Homo sapiens: one gene and its partners. The protein of the gene in region 2 purifies or fractionates together with the protein of the main gene of each other region. This does not show direct contact. Each region holds a gene or a part of one and is shown on either strand. Other genes may lie near its edges.

Region 1 (8,317 bases), on a different chromosome or scaffold from region 2:
AATAGTTCACTAAAAAGACCAAAGGTTTTATTTCGCATAAGCTACTGTCCATATGGAGGAATACTAAATTCAGAGGATACTTTCAACTTATTGATTTAACTAAGAAATAAGCTTGTAAAATAGTTATTTTATAAACTTACTGTGAGATCACTACTAGGAGATAAAATTCCAAAAAGAGAAGAAACTTTTCGACCAATTCCTGAAAGCATGCCTTGCCCCTGAGGCAGGATATGCTGATGAATCTTTCCTGAGCTCTCAGGTATCAACCGAATTAGTTGGCTTCCTGATGAAGACAAAATAAAACTTCCTCCCTGTGAAAAAACATTATGAGGTTAGTTCAGTTTAGCATCGAATGCTAAGATAAAATGAAAAATTCTTTGATACAGAGAAAAATCATCGTAATTGAAATAAATCTAAAAGAATACAAAATAGAACGTTGTTATTTTATTAAAGTAATATATTTCAGAATCCATTCAGTTAATATTATTAATCCTACATAGAAAAACTCTCATAAGAAAAAAACTGGCCAGGCATGGTGGCTCACACCTGTAATCCAGCACTTTGGGAGCCCAAGGCGGGGTGAAACCCCGTCTCTATTAAAAATACAAAAATTAGCTGGGCGTGGCGGTGCGCACCTGTAATCCCAGCCACTTGGGAGGCAGAGGCACAAGAATTGCTTGAACCCAGGAGGCAGAGGTTGCAGTGAGCTGAGATTGCGCCACTGCAATCCAGCCTGGGTGACAGAGTAAAACTGTGTCTCGAAAAAAGAAAAAAAAAAAAAACAACTTTTGTAGCAGAAAAAAATTGCATATTTTTTAAATTCTGATTTTTAAACTACAAGTTCATCATATTTCAGATTCAACAAATTAGGTTATCAGATTTTATTTATTTATATTTTTTGTTTGCTATTTTATTTTTTTAGAGATAGGGTCTCGCTCTGTCACCCAGGCAGAAGTGCAGTGGTGAGATCATAGTTCACTGCAGCCTCAATCTCCTGGGCTCAAGAGATCCTCTTGCCTCAGCCTCCTGAGCAGCTGGGACTACAGGCACACACCACTATGCCCAGATAATTTTTAAATTTTTTTGTAGAGACAAAGTTTTGTTTTATGGCGCAGGCTAGTCTTGAACTCCTGGCCTCAGGCAATCCTTCCGCTTCAGCCATTCAAAGTGGTGAGACTGCACGCATGAGCCACCATGCTCAGCCAGATTTTGTTTCTTTGTGAACCTACAAAGAAGATAATGCAAGCCATTCTTTATAGTGTCTGACAGTTTTTAAGCCAATCTTATAAAATGTTTCTAAAAGAAATTCATATCACAAGCTACTATCTGAAATTGATATTTTGGAGTCCTGTGAGAAGAGCCTCCCTTGTCTAACTGTTCAAATCATAGATCCTTACATTCTTCTCTTCCTTGTCTCTTTTTGATCCCTCCCCGGCCTCTATAGTCTCTTTAAAACCCCACATTTTTAGTCATCAAATCTCATTTCCACGGCTGGGGTGCAGTGGCTCATGCTTGTAATCCCAGTACTTTGGGAAGCCAAAGCAGGAGTTATTGCTTGAGCCCAGGAGTTTGAGAATTGCCTGGGCAACATAAGGAGATCCCACCTCTATTTAAAAATAAAAACAAAAATTTATTTCCAAGCCAAATCACAGCTTTCCAATAAATATAAAGGAATATCCGTGGTATACCTGCACTGCTGTTAGGAAACTGTAAGTCTTATCACCTCCCGAATCTACAAAAGCCTCTGTGTAGGTATCTTCACCAGCAAGGCTTGGCCAATAGCGGATAGATCCTTCTCTGGTGGCAACCATGACAGCAACAGCCTCAAAACAAGATCACAACAATCAGCAATCACAATAAAAGAGGAACCCAAAAACCAGCAGTCTGATGGCAATGATACAAAGAAACAGGACAATTTACTATTTGATCAAGAAAAATCAGAAATAAGAACTCACCAGTGTTTTGGTTTGCATTTTTCTAATGGCTAATGATGCTGAACATCTCTTCATGTGCTTATGTGCCATCCTTATATCCTCACTAAGTGTCTGTTCAAGTCCTAGCCCCTGTTTTTAAACTGCATTGTTTTCTTATCAAGTTTAGAATTTTAAAAAATATTCTGGATACAAGTCCTTTGCTGGATACATGATTTGCAAATTCTTCTTACTCTGTAACTTGTCTCTTCATTTTCTTGTCTTTGGCAAAGCAACGCTTTAAATTTTTATTTTATTTTAATTTTATTATTAATTTTATCAAACTTTTCTTTTATGGATCATGCTTTTGGTGATTTCCAAGAACTCTGTCTAATCTCAGGTCATGATGATTTTCTTCTGTTTTCTTCTAAAAGTTTTACTGTTTTACATTTAGATCTATGACCCATTTCAAATTAATCTTTGTAACAAGGTATGAGGTTTAAGGGAAAATTCAATACAATACAATACAAATTGGTCATTTGTAATTTTAAAATTACAAATGTTCCTACACTATGCATTGATACAGAGAAAAATCATCGTCAAAAACCATCCTTTCTGAATTGCTTTTGCACCTTCATCAAAGACCAAATGGGTGCCTTTATGTGGATCTATAACTGTATTCTCTATTCTGTTACACTGACCTATGTGTGTAGCTCTCTTTGCCAATACCACAATATCTTGATTTCTATAGGTTTATAGTTATATCTCAAAATCAAAGAGGATGATTCCTCTAACTTTAGGATGTCCTTGTTGTAAAAAGTTTATTTAAATAAGCTTTTAAGTCACCTACCTGAGTAGAATGTGCTTCACCTGAGGGAGAAGAGTAAGAAAGAGCCACTAAGTCGGCACTCCAGTGGAAATCACTAGGTGGCAGCTGAAGTTCTTTGCAAACGGATAACTGTAGAACAAACCCAAACAGAAAATCTTTCACATCAAATCCAGTATTTTGAAGATGCATCTGATTTCCCTTCTCTGCATATTTTAGATTCTGACTCACTGCTGGAAACACCATTCTACAAATATTCTTTCTTCTCACATCTCCTTTTAATCAGGCTTTCAGTAATTTTAAAACAAAGTATCTTAAGAGTATTGAATCATGAAAACTTAAAGGTAGACCAAACTCTGAAGAACAACTATCCTAACCTCTTCCTGGGCTAGAAAAGTCCAGTTAAGAGAAGACTAAGTAAGGTTAAGATGAGTGCTTAGGCTTCCTATGGAACTTTCCCAATTTACTCTTGATTTGTTCATCTGACATTTAAAATTAGCATGACCAAAGAGTAATTATACCAAGTTACCTAGGAAACAATTTCTTAGACTCTCAGCCAAATATCAGGATCCCGCAGCTAACTCAGTATGTCCCCCAGGAATTCACCCTCACCTATTACTCCTAACCACATACACCCTTTTCTAGGCAGCAGTAACACAGAGTTCAGCAGAAGTGAAGAATTGAGGTAAGCAGGAGCCCTGAGTTCCAACGGAACATGGCCAAGGAAGTAATGACTGGTAGAAGAGAGTAGTGTATCTAAGCTGTAACAAACAGAAAAAGGTTGCTGAGGATACGTTACTAGACATGCAAATGATAACCCACTGTTGGAAGTGGACAAGTGAAAAGTTTAACTAGCAACTGGTATCATATTTTCTTATTTTATTAAGCATCATTCAGTAGGTTCAACAAAACATAGTTCTGTCTTCTCAGAAATACGCAAACTCAAAGTTCATTTGCTTATGTGGATAGCATTTAGTCTGATACTTCATTAGGCAGACGGATTAGCATTATATTCATTGGAAATATCAATGACTCTAATTTTATTAAATGTAAACAACACAGATCTTCAAAAGGGGGAAACTTTTTTCCCAATACACAAATGTGTATGCATGCTCATTATTTCACATCACTATGAAAATGCAAACTCTTAATGCCTAAGTAGTTTCCTATTGACTATCCTCCAACTGTAAAAAAATTAGGGTAAAAATGAAAAGTCAATTGGCATTCCTCTCCTCTATCTTGTTCCAGCTCTCTAAAGAGCCATTACCTTAGTAATAGGTGACAGAGCAATCTTCCAAATAATGAGCTTCTCTTTGCACACCAGACAAGCCCATCCACCTTCATCTATGTTAATGGTCAGCTGGTCATCGACTAAAGGAAAAAATGAGGTGGGTGATTAATCTTATAGTATAAATCTTTATTACCACACGCTTTATCAAAAAAAAGTAATTGGCACACTCAGAAACGACTACCTCACAACAAATACTTTTGAATATTCCAAAATTATCAACACCAAAAACAATAGATCTATTAACTCTGATAACCAACTTTAGAAATATATCTAACGCCTGTAATCCCAGCACTTTGGGAGGCCGAGGTGGGAGGATCACGAGGTCAGGAGATCGAGACCATCCTGGCTAACATGGTGAAACTCCAACTCTACTAAAACTACAAAAAATTAGCTGAGTGTGGTGGCACGTGCCTGTAGTCCCAGCTACTTGGGAGGCTGAGGCAAGAGAATCGCTTGAACCTGGGAGGTGGAGGTTCCAGTGAGCCGAGATCGTGCCACTGCACTCCAGCATGGGCAACAGAGCCAGACTCCATCTCAAAAAAAAAAAAAAAAAAAAAAGAAAGAAAAAAGAAATATATCTAAAGGCAAAAAGTGTATTTGGGACATTTAATATTCCTTAATTTTTTGTTACAAACAGACCAGATAGCTTATTTCCTATAAGACATATTTAGGCCAGGCACAGTGGCTCATGCTTATAAATCCCAATATTTTGGGAGGCCACCCTGGGAGGACTGCTTGAGGCCAGCCTGGGCAACATAGTGAGACTCTCTCTCTTAAAAAAAAAAAAAAAAAATAGCCAGGCTTGGCAGTGCACTTCCCAGCTACTAGGGTGACTGAGGCACAGGAGAACCACTTGAGCCCAGGAGATTGAAGCTGCAGTAAACCATGATCACATCACTCCCACCTGGTCAAGAGAGCAAGACTCCATATCAAAAAATAAGTAAGCAGAAACAACAAAAGAGAGGCCAGGCAGGGTGGCTCACGCCTGTAATCCCAGCACTTTGGGAGGCCGAGGTGGGTGGATCATGAGGTCAGGAGTTCGAGACCAGCCTGGCCAACATGATGAAACCCCATCTCTACCAAAAATAGAAAAAAAAATTAGCCAGGCATGGGGGCATGGTGGCGTGCACCTGTAATCCTAGCTACTCGGGAGGCTGAGGCAGGAGAATTACTTGAACCTGGGAGGCAGAGGTTGCATTGAGCTGAGATCGCGCCACTGCACTCCAGCCTGGGCAACAGAGCAAGACTCTGTCTCAAAACAAACAAACAAAAAAGAAATATTTAGCAACATTTATAATTATATCGATAAAGTAAAACAAATAACAAACTCATTAACTATATAAAACATTTCAAGGAAAACAATGTGCTTTTGGAGGACCAAAAGCACATAATTTTCAAATAAGAGCTCCTTAAAGGAATGATAAATTATTTAGTACATGGAGACAAAGAGTTACGTTCTCTATTAAGTGACAAAACTAAATTAGCACATATCTTAAGTATTGGTGGTAAACCTCCACAAATGTGTTAACAGCCCTGGAAATTTTATTAAGTTGAGCTTTGCTCTTTACTTACAGAAAGGTAGAAGGGTGAAGTAAAAGGCATAGACAATGTACAAGCAAAAATATCAAACCAAGCCCAGGCTGAGTGAGGCTTTTTGCTCAACTGAACTATCTGCTCAGTAATTTTCTTTTTCTTGAAAGCACTACAACTCCAGATCCTCGACCGGTGTGCCTTTAAGGGCTGACTTAACAGTAGTTGGCAGGTTTCTAAGTGGGGAAGAGTTCTTCAAGTTGACACACCTCTTTGTTTTATATATCCTAATTTCTAAGGACTCTCTGAATTTCTAGATTTGGGGCTGTGTTATTTAATCTAGTCTGTTAAAATATGAGTAGTACATTAAAAGGTTTAAATGTAAACTGAAATTTTTAGAGGGGAAAAATATACACATATATACCAATATATATATATACATTTATTTATTTAAAACAGAACAATGTATAGAAAGGTTAGTAGTTGTCTGAAAACAACTATCCCTAAAGCTCCCAAGGACCTACAGGCAAGATGTGCCAAGTTCCAGTTGATGAGATATATTCCTTCTTCTAAAACAGAGTAATTTCAGCATTTTTTTTTTACTGTTATTAAGTTATACAGTAAATAGAGTTATTCACAGTATAATACATTTTACATCACGATACACCCATATACAATTTAAGTAAAACGAACAAAATTTACTAAACATATGAGATGCATTCTATTTCTTCTTTTTTTAAATGCTGGTCAAGAACCGCTAAATTTTGGTCACCCCTACAATTTGAAAAATACTGTTCCAGAAAAATCACAAAGATCTAGAATTCAAGCCTTAATAAAAATGACTTCAGCAGATATTAAGGCTGCTCTGAACTTTGCTCTTCCAGTGTCATCCAACTGCTCATCTTTAAAGTTGCCTTTCTAAGCTTGTGTTGATTGTATCTGTCAAAATTCCACACTAATTCTCCACCAACAGACGCTTCTAAAGGTACACCACGACAATGGTAACGTCATAAATTTGTGCACACAGCCTCTGGGATGCTACATAGGATCCAGAAATGGAGGTAGGACTTGATTTTACTGTATTATTAAACCCAATAACATGAGGTGCCAGTTTTGGGGTTTCACGGGAAACTTCATAAACCTGATCAACTCTGTAAACAGGACTGAATTTTGCATATACAGTATTTCCCCCTTTTATCTGCAGTTTCAAATACCTGTGGTCAATCGTAGTCTGAAAATATTAAATGGAAAATTCAAATGAACAATTCCTAAGTTGTAAATTGCATGCTGTTCTGGGTAAAGTGATAAAATCTCATACTGTCCTGCCTAAAGGTTGTGAATCAACCCTTTGTGCAGCATATCCATACTGTATACCCCAAGCTTGTCCAACCCATGGCCCAGGGACACGTGTGGCCCAGGACAGCTTTGAATGCGGTCCAACACAAGTTTGTAAACTTTCTTAAAACATGATAAGATTTATACACAGACCTTTTCATTATTTATTTTTAGCTCATCAGCTATCGTAAGTGTATTTTATGTGTGACCCAAGACAATTCTTCTTCCAAGTGGCCCAGGGAAGCCAAAAGATTGGACACCCCTGAGACTATCCAGCTGTTTGTCACTTAGTAGCTGTCTCAGTTACCAGATGAACTGTCGCAGTAATGCAATGCTTATATTCTCATTTTAGTTAATGACCCCAAACGAAGTACAAGAGTAGTGCTGCTGGTATATTGTTATAATTGTTCTACTTTATTATTACTGTTGTTCATCTTTACTGTTCCTAATTTATAAACTAAAGTTTATCATAGGTGTGTATGTATTAAAAAAACACAGTATATATAAGGTTTAGTACTATACAAGGTTTCAGGCATCCACTGGGGATCCTGGAAGATATCCCCCAAAGATAATGGGGGACTACTGTACAGTACCTAAAACCATTAAAGACTTAATTTGATTGTGTTCAAATGAACTCATTCTCCTTCTCGAATGTATTATACATCTCAATTACAGTTAAAAAAAAAAAAAAAAAAAAAAAAAAAAACTAAGACAGGTGGCCAGATGTGGTGGCTCACGCCTGTAATCCCAGCACTTTGGGAGGCCAAGGAGGGCAGATCACCTGAGGTCAGGAGTTCAAGACCAGCCTGGCCAACATGGTGAAACCCTGTCTCTACTAAAAATACAAAAAATTAGCTGGGCGTGGTGGCTCACACCTATAATCCCAGCTACTTGGGAGGCTGAGGCAGGAAACTCGCTTGAACCTGGGAGGTGGTGGTTGCAGTGAGCTGAGATCACACCACTGCACTCCAGCCTGGGTGACAGAGTGAGACTCTGTCTCGAAAAAATAAAAATAAAAAAACACTAGACAGGCCACCCATCTCTCACCATTTACGTAAAGGTATACTAGAGAAAACATAAATTTAATCTCTATGCCACATCTAGGCTCCATTTTAAACTGCTAATATAGGTAAATGGAAAGATGACACCTACCTTCAGCCAATGTTAGGGCTTCCATGACTTTAACAGGAAGAGAAGATCCAAACGTTTTCACATCATAGTTCACAGACTCAGTTATGGAGTGGTGTGGGAACATTCGTGTTGGTGTTCCCCTAAAGAAAAGAGTCTATATTACCTTACTTGTAACTTAAAATTCTCCATTATCCTAATTTTTTATGTATATATTTTCACAGTAAGGAGTTCTTTGAAAAAAATTAACACTGGCTCATATTTACCATGTAATTAAATGTAATATTTTTCATGTAA
Region 2 (7,032 bases):
GAATATCATTCCTATTAACAGGATGGCAAGATTTCTGTCATAATCACCAAGGTAGACAATATATGAAAAAGTGTTTATCTTGGAAGTCACACTTAAAAGAAGGCCTCTGGCCGAGCACGGTGGCTCATGCCTATAATCCCAGCACTTTCGGAGGTGGAGGAGGGTGGATCACTTGAGGTCAGGAGTTCAAGACCAGCCTGGCCAACATGGTGAAACCCTGTCTCTACTAAAAATACAAAAAATTAGCTGGGCGCACACCTGTAATCCCTGCTACTCGGGAGGCTGAAACAGGAGAATTGCTTGAACCTGGGAGGCAGAGGTTGCAGTGAGCTGAGATCGTGCCATTGCACTCCTGCCTGGGCGACAGAGCGAGACTTAAAGTCTCAAAAAAAAAAAAAAAGGCCTTTGACAAAGAGCAGTAATTTTTAAAGGGAAAACAAGATTGTGAAAACAAGGTCAATTAACAGTGACTCATTGCTTACTATGGTTCAGATACTGTTAAACACTGTTACACGAAGACATGGGCGCTGTTCTTGATCTTGTGGCCCAGTAGGGGGAGACAGGCTCCTTAACACACTGCTTTGCGCACAATTTAAGTTCTGCACAATGGGCTTTTGAAGCAGAGTGCAATTTAGTCCGGATTGCTGGAGGCCAATAAAAGCTGTCTGGAGAAAATGACACCTAGAAGGAGTCTTGAAGGATAAGAAGGATTTAGCCAAAAATGGAAAGAAAGAGAAGGAAACCTTCACTGGAGAGACTATAATAATCAATTTTGAATATTTGAATATGTGATGAGAGGAATTTTGTGTGTGTGGCTCCCGAGATAAGACAGATAGAAGCAAATTTCAGTTCAGTATATGAAAATTCATTTATTTAGTGAAACCCTGACATTAAAGCGTCCCAACACAAAGCAGATTCGAACATAACAACTGGTGATTGGCTCATCTCACAGGCTCACATCATCAGTGTGTTAACATACAATAGGACTGTACCCTTTTACAGGATTGAGTGTTTTGGATCCCACTCACACACTAAAACCCTGCCATAAAGTTGTATCAATTAGGGCTGTTCAAATGTGAAACTGTATTGGAAAATGGGAAACTTTATCTCCTTATATATGTATATTTTTTGAGATGGCGTTTTGCTCTTTTGCCCAGGCTGGAGTGAAGTGGCACGATCTTGGGTCACTGCAACCTCTGCCTCCCGGGTTTGAGCAATTCTCCTGCCTCAGCCTCCCAAGTAGCTGGGATTATAGATGCCTGCCACCACGCCCGGTTAATTTTTTTTTTGCATTTTTAGTGGAGACGGGGTTTCGCCATGTTGGCCAGGCTGATCTCGAACTCTTGACCTCAGGTGCTTCACCCACCTCGGCCTCCCAAAGTGCTAGCATTACAGGCGTGAGCCACCATGCCTGGCCACCATATGTTTTTAAGTATAGGTTGGATGATAATTTGTTGGGAATACCATAGAAGGGATGATGAAATTTAGGCTGGAGATGATCACCAAGGTACTTTCTATCTCTAAGATCCTGCAACCCTTGAAAGACACTCTATTTGACAGTTTCATGAATAAAGGCAGTGACAATGAACAAATTCATAAATTACGGTGTTACATTACATAAAGCTTAGTTTCTTATTAAAATTGGCAAAACTTGTCAATTGGCATGAAATGTAATGCTGTTAAAATATACTTTCTCTTATGGTTACAAATACTAAGTGGCTCACGCCTGTAATCCCAGCACTTTGGGAGGCCGAGGCGGGCTGATTACCTGTGGTCAGGAGTTCGAGACCAGCCCTGGCCAACATGGTGAAACCCTGTCGTCTCTACTAATACAAAAATCAGCCGGGAGCAGTGGCTCAAGCCTGTAATCCCAGCATTTTGGGAGGCTGAGGCAGGTGGATCATGAGGTCAGTTCAAGACCAGCCTGGCCAACACAGTGAAACCCCATCTCTACTAAAAATACAAAAATTAGCTGGGTGTGGTGGTGAGCACCTGTAATCCCAGCTACTCGGGAGGCTGAGGCAGGAGAATTGCTTGAACCTAAGAGACGGAGGTTGCAGTGAGCTGAGATCATGCCATTTCACTCCAGCCTCAGCAACAAGAGCAAAACTCCATCTCAAAAAATATATATATTTATTAGGACAGAAAAGCAAAACCTTACCATAATTCCATAACTATGATTATTGGAATTACAAAGTAAATGAACACTTCAATTGTCTAATAGCAGTGATTTGTCATTAAGGTCTCAGGTCAATAATACATTTAAAATCTAACAAAGTTTGGAAAGATAGTATCATTAAATTATCTTAAAACACTACATTAGTTCATTATTATCCCTGCAGACAAGGATAAAGATGGTTGGTAACACTATAGGTGGCTAAAACAAAGTAAAAGGATCAAAATGGCAAAATTCTTTACTCTGATCATATCATTTGATTAATCACACTTTTATCTATCACATTTTTAGTTTGGAAATAGTTTGCTTATCAATATAGAATTCTACTTTATTGCACAATGTCCAGTTTGGCAACTTTCAGCTATGCTGTGAAGCTAAACAAAAGCAAAGTTGGGTCTAACAAGCTGAAAGAGTTCTGCTCAAAAACCTATTCTGAAAAAGGAACTTGTCAAAACATTTTCACCTTAAAAAAATTTCAGGCCGGGTGCAGTGGCTCACACCTGTAATCACAGCACTTTGGGAGGTCGAGGCGGGTGGATCATGAGGTCAAGAGATCGAGACCATCCTGGCCAACATGGTGAAACTCTGTCTCTACTAAAATTACAAAAATTAGCTGGGCGTGGTGGCGCACACCTGTAGTTCCAGCTACTCAGGAGACTGAGGCAGGAGAATTGCTTGAACCTGGGAGGTGGAGGTTGCAGTGAGCCGAGATTGCACCACCGCACTCCAGCAGAGCAAGACTCTGCCTCAAAAAAAAAAAAAAAAAAAAATTGAACACAGCTACACATCTTTGTCATTTTTGCTCTACTCAATTCTTTCTGAAAAAGTTTATTATTATTAAGGAAATAAAGTGTGGAAGGATCATAGGAAATACTTGCAATAAAAAGAATAATCATTAACATTGGCAACTGCCACTAGGAAGGTGTATATGCCACATACTACTGATAAAAATTGTAGGAACCCATTGGTAGTTCCCATAACCACCATTGATGTGTTAATTCCCACAACATCAAAAATAAAGAATTAGTTCCACAAGCTGTCTGTCAATAATACTCTGAAGGCAACCTATTCATCAGCACCAGAATCCCACTGATTTTCTTCCACATGTTCACAATCTTTTGCCATCAGTCATCTATCGGATTCTACAACTGTTTGGGAGTGTCAGGCTAACAAAAGTCAAAACTGGGCATTGACATTAATGGTAGTTTACTGATGTTTCCCCTGCAAATCTCGTATTTTCTGATACTAAAATTTTGCACAGAAGTTGGATTTCAAAAGGCTAATTGCATGTTCTATCTGAAATCTTATAATTATAGTACTTCTACGAAAAAAGATGTCTAGTAACATAAATTGCTTCTGCATCGGTTCCACAAACAAGACAAGGACCTAAAACATCCAAAGTGTTCACAGACAGAGACCTACTGGGAAGTAAGCTTGTGATTTCAATTCGGTCTTTTGCAGGATCAGTGCTGAGCCAGGAGCTAATGACAGACTGGTGAACATTAGCTTGGTTACTAATGCTATGAGACAAAAAAGTACTGCTTCTTCCTCCTGGGAGAAAAAAAGAAAAGGAAGAAATCTTTCAAGATGATTTTTATATTAGTAAACATTCAAACTTCTACTGATATTTAGAAAGGTGATGATATCAATGTGTTTAATTCTCAGAATAATAGGCTAATAATTCCATTATTATACATCACCACTTTGGACCAAAGGCTTATTCAGTGATATTAAATATTCAAATTTCCATGGGATAATATGGATACCAAACTCGAAGTCTTCAGGAAAAGCAGGTGATTTCAACTGACTTTCTGTTCATCTTTTAATGGAAAGTCTCAGAAAGGTAGCAAAACGGCCAGCATACAAGTTGAATAAGGAAAGAAAAAAAAGAAACCAAAAATGTAGGTAATACATGGAAATATAAACTCTTGGGTAATAACAAAATAAAATGATCATGAGAAAGAATTTCTAGACATATTTCTAGATGAACATTTCTAGAAATATATTTCTAAATATATATTTGTTACTATATTTCTTAAAATATAATCGCCTTACCTCAAATCTTTCATTCTTATGCTTTTTAGATAAATGTTCTTACAAGCAGATTAGAACACTACTAGATTATAAGGTTTTATCTCTAACAGCGCACTGTACTTACTATAGAATAAAGTGAGGCAGAGGCAGTATATTTCAATTTTAGTCATTATTCGCAACTTACTTTCCTCTCAACTTGCTGTCATATCAAATAAGTACAAATTTAATTCACTCAACAAATGACTGAGTACCTACTATGTGCCAGGCTCTGTGCTAAGTGCTCTGTGCCAAGTCCCTATGTCTTGAAGCTTAAAGATTAGTACATTTAAAATCTTGCTGATCCTTTAAAATATGGCTGAACTTCCTTCTCTAAGAAAACTTTGAAGACAACCTCTACTTCATGTTTTTCTCTTTCCTTGAACCCTCAGCACTTGTATGTACCATTAATTTACTACTTTATAACAATTCTTATATCCTAATTGAACTATCCATGCCTCTGTCCATGACTAAATATGTCTTAAGAGCAGGATGCATATTTTATATGTTTTACTTTTTCACAGTGTCTAATACTGTGCCTTGCAATAGTAGACACAGAATAAAGTTTTATTTCCAGTCTAACCAAGGTTCCTTAAAAGTAAACTTGCAAGTTCAAGACTGTGCGGTTAGGGGAGGAAGGAAGTAAAAACGAAGTACATACTTAGTTAATCCTTAGATGAAACTGTTTGTTTCTCTGTAGATGAAGTTATAGCATGGACATGCATGCATGCTCCACACATGCTCTCCGCTCCAGAATTTTTCTGAAGAAGTTTTAGAATTTTTTTCCCCTTAGTTTTTCTGTTTATCTTTTACTGCCCCTACATTTTACATTGCTCTTGGACGCTGTAAAGATTAACACATTATTCAAGCCACTGTGATAAGACTCCTTCCTCATCTCCCTGTTTTCCACTTTTCTCCTCCCCCTCCCATAAGTCTAAAGTCCTTATCATGGGCTACAAAGTCCCAGGGCTCCTCAGCCACCAGTCCTTATCTCCCACCACTGTACCCTGCTGCCTGAGCTCCAACCGTGGTGTCCTTGCAGTTCTCTGCCTGTCTCAGGCCCTCAGCATTTGCTGTTTCCTCTGCCTGGAATGCTTTCATGTCACTTATGCCTTCACTTCTCTTAAGTCTCTGCTCAAATGTTCCTTCTGCCAAGTGGCCTCTTCTGACTCTCACTAGAGTAGCTCCCCTCACCCCTGTCTTTATTCTTTATCCTCCTACTCTGCTGTATTCTTCTTCATGGTAATTAGCAGTGTATTTGGCCATGTTATTTTCCTTTTTCTTTTTTTTTGAGATGGAGTCTTGCTCTGTTGCCCAGGCTGGAGTGCAGTGGCGTGACCTTGGCTCACTGCAACCTCCAACTCCCGGGTTCAAGCAATTCTCCTGCCTCAGCCTCCAGAGTAGCTGGGATTACAGGCACCCACCACCACGTTCAGCTAATTTTTGTATTTTTAGTAGACACAGGGTTTCACCATGTTGGACCAGGCTGGTCTTGAACTCCTGGCCTCAGGTCATCTGCCCACCTCGGCCTCCCAAATTGCTGGGATTACAGGTGTGAGCCACCGCGCCCGGCCTCCTTTTCCACTTTGCTGTGCTCCACTATATACTGTAGGAGGTAGAAGTTGGTAAACTCCACTTTCCAGGCTGCTTTGCCATCTGCCATCCAGATGGGCCTTGCCAATAGCAGGTATTAATGGTGGGTGACTGGAAGGCGGAAGGGAGAAGCAGCTCCTTCCTGCTCCAGGTTTCTGGCAACAACACTGGTGGTAGTTTCAGCCTGGTTGAGGGAGCGCCTTTTCTCCTAATTCAGAACAAACTTTTACAGCATTTTCAACAGTCAAGTAGCAGGGGTACTAACAATTACTATTTCTGGGTTTTCCCTTTTCTTCCTATTTGTTCTCCCAGCACCCCTCCTATTACCTTTTGTTTTCCCAGCCCTTCTAACACATGTGAGACCAATTCCTTCTACATCTAAGGTAGTTTCTGACATTCTAATTGGACTCTTACTGATACATTATCTATTTTTTTAACTATTAGAATATTTGCTCTATGCGTTTCGACATTTCGTTCTGCTCACTGTTACACGTCCTAACACCTAGAAGAATGCCTACCACATGGTAGGCATTCAGTAAATATTTCTGAATAAATGAATAAGCAAAAGAACTTTGGAGCCACAGACAAACCCTCAAAAACAGGAAACTTGGAAAATGCAAAAACACATAAACCCCGATTACAAGTGCATGGTCTTTGGCTGACCATAACCTACAACTGACTGTAATGAGGAAAGCACGCCCTTTTTTTTTTTTTTTGAGACGGAGTTTCGCTTTTGCTATCCAGGCTGGAGTGCAATGGTGCAATCTCGGCTCGCTGAAACCTCTGTCTCCTGGGTAAAAGCAATTCTCCTGCCTCAGCCTCCTGAATAGCTAGGATTACAGGCATGAGCCACCACACCCGGCTAATTTTGTATTTTTAGTAGAGACGGGGTTTCTCCATGTTGGTCAGGCTGGTCTCGAACTCCCAAACTCAGGTGATCCACCTGCCTTGGCCTCCCAAAGTGCTGGGATTACAGGCATGAGCCACCACACCCGGCCTGAGATCAGGCCATTTAACCAGTACCCTCAGTTACATCAAATATCAACTTTTTTCTTGCCATTCACACAAACTTGGCAATGCAATATGAAAGATTTGCCACTGTCTATGCTATGGCATGAGGGTCCAGGTTAATGGCACTCACAAAGGAGAACCTTGGCTGTCTCAAGTGAGCCAGCTTACAGCATTTCTAGCCA
Region 3 (8,317 bases), on a different chromosome or scaffold from region 2:
CGGCTGCCCTTCTACTCCACCGCCGCGTCCTCGCAGACGCCGACCTCACCGTCTGACCCAGGAGTGGCATGCACAGATCAACCCCGGGCGAGTAGCACTCTTAACAGAGGACACACACCCCGCCGCCGCCCTGTAAGCCAGCTAGGACGCCGCAGCACGTCCCACGCCCCGCTCATCTCCGCCCGCAGCCACGTGACTCGGGGCTCCAGTGCTTCCGCCCCCGAGCCGCTGGCTGAACGGCCGCTACCCTGCGCAGGCGCGCTGAGCCTTGGGCGCGCGACGCTTGCGTCTTTGGGTCCTATCCTCTGGGTCCCCGACCCCCTTGGTCACCTAACGCCTACCTGACTGGACCAATCTAGGACCCCTTTCTTGATGTTTGTTTCCTGTGTGTCATTGACCCGATTTGCTAGACAACTTCTCTCTGGCTGTGCAGACACTGTTAGCCAATTTTACGTATTAAATGCTGAGCAAATTTAGTAGCCCTCGCCAGAGGGGGGAAAGAACTTATTGAAAGCATGTTTTTATTTTTTATTTTTGGAAAAAGACATTCAAAATTTACTTTCCAACAGACAGCATCATCGGGTATAACTACAAGGGTTTCTCCTTAGATCATACATTCACAAAGCATTATTAGCTCAACAGTGAGAAAATGTGTTCTCTAAAGATGTCCCCTTGACAATGTAAACGAGTGCTACTGTGTTCACTTACAACTCGAGAAAAAAACGTACAACCTGGCAAAACCGTATATATATACAGCTGTCTCTAGGGGTGCATACAAATATATATATATGTTTTGGATCAGGTCAGGTGCAATGACTAAGAGATAGAACTTTGAGTAACAGTCTTGATCGACAGTAAGGTCCTTCACACAGAAGTCAGGTTCTTCCTTTCTCCTTCCTCCTTAAGTCGATAAAGAAAGATTATATATTGTAGATATTACAGGTACAAAAGGAGATTTTTAAAAAAGGAATCACAAAAACATCTTGAATGTCCAGCTGTTCCTGCCAATACATCAATTCTTAGTTTTAAGACAGAGTCTAGGATTAATTCAGCAGTCATAAAATTAAAAAGAGAGACTGTGGTACAAAAAATTTAAAATAAATGAGGAAGTAGGGCATGGTGGCGTGGGCCTGTAGTCCCAGCTATTTGAGAGACTGACGTGGGAGGATTGCTTGAGCCCAGGAGTTGGAAGCCGGGATGGGCAACATAGTGAGACCCCCATCTCTAAATTAAATAAATAAATGAGGTAGGGAAATTAAAACTTTCACACCCAGGACATGCCTGTTCCAACTTTGTAGCCTTCATGCAATGCTCAAGGAAAAAGTCTTCATAATTCCTTGGCATAAGTCACACCAAGAAAAGTTTTTAAAACTTAGTATGCGAACCTGTGATAGGCAACACGCCCTTCCCTGAGTTTCCTCTCTAGAATGAAAACCCAGTTCTTCAAGAGTAGGCACTGAGGAACTAAATTAAGTTGCCTGAAATTTCCCACTCAGGTGCCCACCACTTCTGGTGTTCAGGAAGAGAGGCATTTGGGAATTGTGAGGAGCACATTGGCACTCTTGGGGCTCCAACTGAACTGTATTTAAATAAGCAGCAACACACACATTGACTCCCTAAGGACTCAAAGGAGTCCAATTGGCTGGGTGCAGTGGCTTATGCCTGTAATCCCAGCACTTTGAGAGATCGAGGCGAGTGGATCACTTGAGGTCAAGAGTTTGAGACCAGCCTGGCCAACATGGCAAAACCCCGTCTCTACTAAAAATACAAAAATTAGCCAGGCGTGGTGGCAGGCGCCTGTAATCCCAGCTACTAGGGAGGCTGAGGCAGGAGAATCGCTTGAACCCAGGAGGCGGAGGTTTGCAGTGAGATATCATGCCACTGCACTCCGGCCTGGGAGACAGAGCAAGACCATGTCTCAAAAATAAATAAATAAATAAAAATTAAAAACAAGTCCATTTGAGGGCATCCTAATTAAGAGTCTAAGGTTGAAGGAATTTTGTAATTCCACAACCTTAGTGGGTTTCTGTGCTGTGTTTTTTAAAGGACATTCAAAAAACAAGGCACAACAAAAGACAAATACAGAGTGGGGGACATGCAAAACAAGTTCCTAAATAGATGACAGACCTTGTCCATTTACCCACATACGGTTACGATGGAAGCATACAATATTCCTCCTCCTCATTTAGGCTAAGTAGTTTTCCCACTGTTGTTCAACAAATAGGTAACAGTCTTTGGAAATAGTCACCCTGGGTTGTACAAAGTTTCTATATATACAGTTTGTTGCAAGTAACAAAACTACTTTTAAGACTCACTTATTTCCCCTCCCCACCCCAAATCTAGTCTGTATTTGTTTTGGTATGAATTTTTTGTTTTTATTTTTTGCAAAGTAGCATAGCAATAATCATGATTACAGGACTGCATGAGCTGTAAAAATCATTTGCATATTAGTAAGAATAAAGAAAACAGGAAGACAAGATGAATTCTTTAGAGAAATAAAACAAAAAAAGCACATAATATAGAACTGATCAAATTCTATGATCCCATCTCAGGCTTCCCAAGCCAGCTGTCTCTAGGGGTGGCATCTATAAATACATATTCAAGAAATTCCTTAGATGATTAGCAAGTTTGGGGAATTACTGTTTTCTATTAGAATCACATTCTTTTAGTTGTCTCCTGTTTATAAGCCCTACACTCTAGCCTATTTGGTGTATTTGTTGGTTCATAATAATGCCCAGCATTTATCATTTCTTGCTCATACTGATTTCTTAATCTATAGAGCCTCATCCTTCTTGTGTCACTCTTTGCCTTTGCAAATTCAGTGCATTACTCAAACCCCAAACCAATACTACTTCCTGAGAGTCTTTTCAGCTGGAGAGAGGTTCTTCCTGCTCAGACTACTTGTAATTCTTTCTTTTTTTGGAGACAGTGTCTCGCTCTGTCCCCAAGGCTGGAGTGCAGTGGCGTGATCTCGGCTCACTGCAACCTCTGCCTTCCAGGTTCAAGAGATTCTCATGCCTCAGCCTCCCCTGAGTAGCTGGGATTACAGGCACCTGCCACCATGCCCGGCTAATTTTTGTATTTTTTTAGTAGAGACAGGGTTTCACCATGTTGGCCAGGCTGGTCTCAAACTCCTGACGACAGGTGATCCACCTGCCTCGGCCTCCCGAAGTGCTGGGGTTACAGACGTGAGCCACTGCACCCAGCCACTACTTGTATTTTTAAATGACACCTTTTAAATGTACTTATGGTATTTCCCCTATTAGAAGAGCGGGATCTGTAATCTCCAATATATTCAGTGCTTACTGTGTGCCAGGTACTACGCTAAGTCTTTATATGCTCTTATTTTGATAGGAAGTTTGCTAAATGAAAGTTAAACTAGAAATGTCTTCAAAATAACTAAAATAATAATAGCATGTTATGTTAGAAAAATTCTTGTTATAGTCATCTTCTTAATTTTAATATTCAAAAATACTAAATTTTATGATAAATAAAAAATTACGTACCTGGCTTAAAAATAAATCTACTTTCCATCATCTTTATGATTTTAAAATATCAGAATGCTTATGATTACAGAAAAAACTAGAACAGAAAATTTAATTTTCTTATTACATGAAAAAGAGACAACCCTGGAATTTGTAAAAACAGAAAATTTTAATTTTTATATAGTTTTATTAACAAGCACACAGAGAAACGCTGATATCCCTACATGTTGAAAGTGTCACGATAATATTCTGAAAAGTACAAAATTCAAATGTCTAAATTTTACATGGTAATGCAAAAGAAAAAATTACTAATAACAAGTATATTTTATTAAAAACTTCATTTATCATGAAAATTAGTGAGATTACAAAGATTAAACTATAACTGAATTTCATACCCTAATGGGTCAAGTCCCTGGTCTAGGAGCATTAGAGAGGACTCTCTGAGCTTCTGCAGCAACTTCCTTAGCTCTTCCTTAGAAAATACCTGATTTTTAAAAAGAGAAATAAGAATGAGAACAAAGACAAGTAGACAAGTATGAACTTAGTTACCTAATCGATCTGATTAGCTTCATATAAGAAGAAATGCCTCTTTAAGATTTATGTAGCCAGAGCCTAGTAAATTAGAGTGGTTCAGGAATTTCAAGGTGAATTCTCAGAGTCAGTCTATATATTTCTAACTGCTTACAAATATACACACATTTTGGGAAAAAAGTACAAACATTAAAACATTAAAACTGGACTATTACTTTAAGAAAATCCAAGAGCAATTACAAATGTAAACACATCTTCACAAAATTAATATTACTACAGAGCATATCAAATCATTAAAATTTAAAACTACAAGGCTCTAGAACTTACCAGGTACAGTTTGTGGCGCTCAGAGGATACCATATCTGCTAACTGTAGGCATTCCTGATACTGACCAGTACTGTGCAATATCGTATGAAGCAGAAAACACAACATTGGCAGACAAAGCTTTCTCAGTAAGACCATTTGATGTGTTCTTTCATGGTCTTCTTTGGCATCCTACAAACAGACATCAATAAATCATTTTAACAATTTAAGCTAAAGATCCTTACAAAAAGAAAAGCCAGGTACTGAATCAAACCCAGAATGTAATTGGTAGACAAGATTTAACAGCAAAAAAGTATGAAGATGAACAACGTAGACTACAGAGAGGTATGACAGTGAAAATAAAATGCTTCTGCATTTGTATTTCTAATAAACTTACTATGTCCTGAATAAAAACATGCATAAAAAGAATGAGTTGGAAACTGAATATCATTAGAGCAAAAATCAGAACAGAAAACAATCACCACTCCTTTGGATGTTTATACATATAAATAAAGATAGCTCTAAGGAGGCCTGAGAGGACACAACAGACTGACAGCAATGACTGTTGCTGGGAAAAAGACGATGTGGGGAGGGGCACACAGGGAGGGTCAACTTCATTGCAGACTACTTTGCTTATACACATGGAAAATGGAATTTATAATTTCTTTATATAATTTTTAAAAACAGAAAAACAGAACCTATAGATTTGAATAATACAATTAATGAGTCAGAACAGATATATAAGGAAAACAAGCAGAAAAAACAATTGGCATTCCTTTATACATACATGGATCTTTCTTAAAATCGATGTGAACAGTAAAAGTACAGAAAAAAGAGTAAACCTCTTATGCCCACTACATTTACTTACAAAAAATTTGAAAATTAAAATAATTAGAAAGTAACCAACCACATAATTTCTTTTTTTTTTCTTTTCTTTTTTAACCTTTTTCTTCTTTTCTGAGACAGCATCTCACTCTGTCGCCCAGTCTGGAATGCAGTGGTACAATCATGGCTCTCTGAAGCCTTGATCTCCGGGCTCAAGCAATCCTCCTACCTCAGCCTCCCAAGTAGCTAAGAACCACAGGCATGTGCCACCATGCCCGGCTAATTTTTCTATTTAAAAAAAAAAATAATTTTATTATTTGTAGAGATGAGGTCTCCCTATGTTGCCCAAGCTAGTATCGAACTCTTGGGCTCAAGTGATCCTCCTGCCTCAGCCTCCCAAAGTGCTGGGATTACAGAAATTACACACTACAATTTCTGAAATAATCTTAAAAATAGGAAGGAAATCAATAGCACTAATAGTGTAGAAAAAAAAAACAGGACAAGCTAAAATAATAACTGCTCCTTTGAAAAGCCTAATGGAATACCTAAAAGTATCTTCATGTGAGAGGCTATATTAAATTGCTAAAACATTTTTCAAATGGACATGTAAGTGGAGGGGTTAATCAACAACAAAGTATAATCTGGTAATTATACCAAGGAGTAATTGTACTAATTTGGGCTAATCTAGGTCAGGTTTCCAAACATAGGAAAAATTACTATCAATATTTTGGTCTTGTTTGAAGCATAAATACATAAAAGCAAATATTAAAGTGCTTCTTTACAAGGGAAGCACCTTTATTTCTTTTCTCAAATAGATACTTGCTACCTTCAGAGGTGGATTTAAAATGCTTCAAGGTTTTACTTGTAATTCATATTAGTGATCCCAACCTAGAACCCAGTAAGAATAAGAGAACTGCTTCTTTCTGGACCTTTCCATTTGTGCTCCAATGTAGTCTTTCTGTCTATGTTAAAGAGGCCGGGTGCCCCTGGCTTCTGACTCCTTGTTGCCCGAAAAGCAGCAGGTTACTTTCTTATCTCACAGGATGGACCCAGACTTGCTTTTACTAAATCCTTTTGCTGCCATAATATCAGAGTGTGCTGCAGACAATCTCTTCTGCTAATTATAATGAATTCCGATACTAGCGGGCGGGCTGCCAGCAACTATCCAGGGTAATGGCTGACAGACCCAGCAAATTGCTACAAGGAAAAGCAAATAAACAGCTCTGCTACAACTGAAGACATTTTTCTCATCTGAATGAACAAAAGCTTTGAAATAGCCGGTAAATATGTAAAACAGACGGATTATTTCCACTAGGGATATTTCCACTTTTTTTTTTTTTTTTGAGACGGAGTCTCGCTCTGTCGCCCAGGCTGGAGTGCAGTGGCGCGATCTCAGCTCACTGCAAGCTCCGCCTGCCGGGTTCACGCGATTCTCCTGCCTCAGCCTCCCGAGTAGCTGGGACTACAGGTGCCCGCCACCACACCCGGCTAATTTTTTGTATTTTTAGTAGAGATGGGGTTTTACTGTGTTAGCCAGGATGGTCTCGATCTCCTGACCTCGTGATCTGCCCACCTCAGCCTCCCAAAGTGCTGGGATTACAGGCGTGAGCCACCGCGCCCCCCCATGTAGTGCCTTACATGTGAGAAAAACTCATTACCTAATATGTGTTGATAGCAAGAGTTGATTGGAACTGATATTACAGCTATTCCTAATCTGAAGACAGTACATTCACCTCAGTAATGCAGTATCATTCATTTACTAAGTACCACTGAAAGCCTCCCATGTGCTCAGCATTATTTTAAGTGCCAGAGTCAAAGAAATAAAGAAAACAAGGTTACTCCCTTCATGAAGGTTATATTCTAATGAGGGTAGACATACAAAAAGCAAATAAATTAATATGTTTTATATCAGATTGTGCTAAGTGCTATGAAGAAAACTAATGTAGGATATGGAGATTAAAAGGGACAGGTGTGTGTGTGTGTATACACATGCATACATGCTATTTTAAATAGGGTGGTTGGGTTGGGGAGAGGTTCTTGAAAGAGATGACATTTGAGCAGCTGCTGAAAGAAGTACAAAGTCATCCATGCACCTATCTTGGCGAAGGAGCATTCTAGGCAGAGGGGAACCAATGAAGAGGCCCAGAATGCCAGGATATAGTGATGGGAGAGCAGTAGGACACAAGATTAGGGGGTTAGTTTAAAAAAAAAAGAACAAAACAAAAGTATGTATACTCTTGTACATCAAGAAAAGAAAGATTTTATTCCAAGTGCAATAAGAAGGCATCAGAAAGTTCTGGGTAAGACAGTCGCATGTATTTTATTCTGAAAGGGTCACTAGTCCATCTGTATAAGGAACGATTGTATAAAGAACAGTGAGAAGCCACGGAAGACAGTAGAGGCTTGGACTAGAATGTGCTAGAGGTAGAGGTAGTGAAAGGTAGGTAAAGATGACCTGCCTGCTCCATTCTCTCTGCCATTCCTCTGTGCCACCAGCCCCAACACTAAGGGGACTATTCCAGTTATTTAAAAACTTGAGGGGTAGCTATACGAAAACAGCACATAATGCTAGGGCTATTGTGTACAGCCGTGCCTTGTACAAGGGTGGCTGGCCAAGCAAGTAAGTGGGGCTGAAATCTAGCCTGTGTTCTGTCTTACATATTGTGTGCACTTGCCATGGAACCTATCTATGTAAGGGAAGGGAATTCCAATTTTTTTTTTTTTTTTTTGAGACGGAGTCTCCCTTTGTTGCCCAGGCTGGAGTGCAGTGGCGCAATCTTGGCTCACTGAAACCTCCGCCTCCCTGGGTTCAATCGATTCTCCTGCCTCCACCTCCCTAGTAGCTGGGATTACAGGCGCGAGCCACCACACCCGGCTAATTTTTTGTATTTTTATTTTTATTTTTGAGACAGAGTCTCGCTCTGTTGCCAGGCTGGAGTGCAGTGGCGCAATCTCGGCTCACTGCAACCTCCGCCTCCCAGGTTCAAGTGATTCTTCTGCCTCAGCCTCCCAAGTAGCTGGGACTACAGGCACGTGCCACCATGCCTGGCTAGTTTTCTGTATTTTTAGTAGAGACAGGGTTTCACCATATTGGCCAGGATGATCTTGATCTCCTGATCTTCTGATCCACCAGCCTTGGCCTCCCAAAGTGCTGGGATTCAGGCGTGAGCCAC

What was found.
Region 1: the proteins of NUP43 (region 2) and NUP133 purify together in Homo sapiens (affinity purification with mass spectrometry; 7 studies listed by BioGRID and IntAct, with this or other methods). This does not show direct contact.
Region 3: the proteins of NUP43 (region 2) and NUP107 purify together in Homo sapiens (affinity purification with mass spectrometry; 10 studies listed by BioGRID and IntAct, with this or other methods). This does not show direct contact.

The regions. Positions count from the first base shown.
Region 1 is NC_000001.11:229,497,996-229,506,312, forward strand, and holds part of NUP133 (nuclear pore complex protein Nup133), read right to left. Parts: intron 8,164-8,317; coding exon 8,045-8,163; intron 4,108-8,044; coding exon 4,004-4,107; intron 2,869-4,003; coding exon 2,761-2,868; intron 1,824-2,760; coding exon 1,689-1,823; intron 312-1,688; coding exon 141-311; intron 1-140. UniProt on the Homo sapiens protein: Involved in poly(A)+ RNA transport. Involved in nephrogenesis.
Region 2 is NC_000006.12:149,723,472-149,730,503, forward strand, and holds the end of NUP43 (nucleoporin Nup43), read right to left. Parts: exon of another isoform or gene 6,048-7,032; coding exon of another isoform or gene 6,019-6,047; exon of another isoform or gene 5,090-6,018; coding exon of another isoform or gene 5,049-5,089; exon of another isoform or gene 5,009-5,048; intron 5,008-5,008; coding exon of another isoform or gene 4,919-5,007; exon of another isoform or gene 3,728-4,918; coding exon 3,498-3,727; 3' UTR 844-3,497; downstream 1-843. UniProt on the Homo sapiens protein: Component of the Nup107-160 subcomplex of the nuclear pore complex (NPC). The Nup107-160 subcomplex is required for the assembly of a functional NPC.
Region 3 is NC_000012.12:68,738,007-68,746,323, reverse strand, and holds the end of NUP107 (nuclear pore complex protein Nup107), read right to left. Parts: intron 4,512-8,317; coding exon 4,344-4,511; intron 3,970-4,343; coding exon 3,862-3,969; 3' UTR 515-3,861; downstream 1-514. UniProt on the Homo sapiens protein: Plays a role in the nuclear pore complex (NPC) assembly and/or maintenance. Required for the assembly of peripheral proteins into the NPC. May anchor NUP62 to the NPC. Involved in nephrogenesis.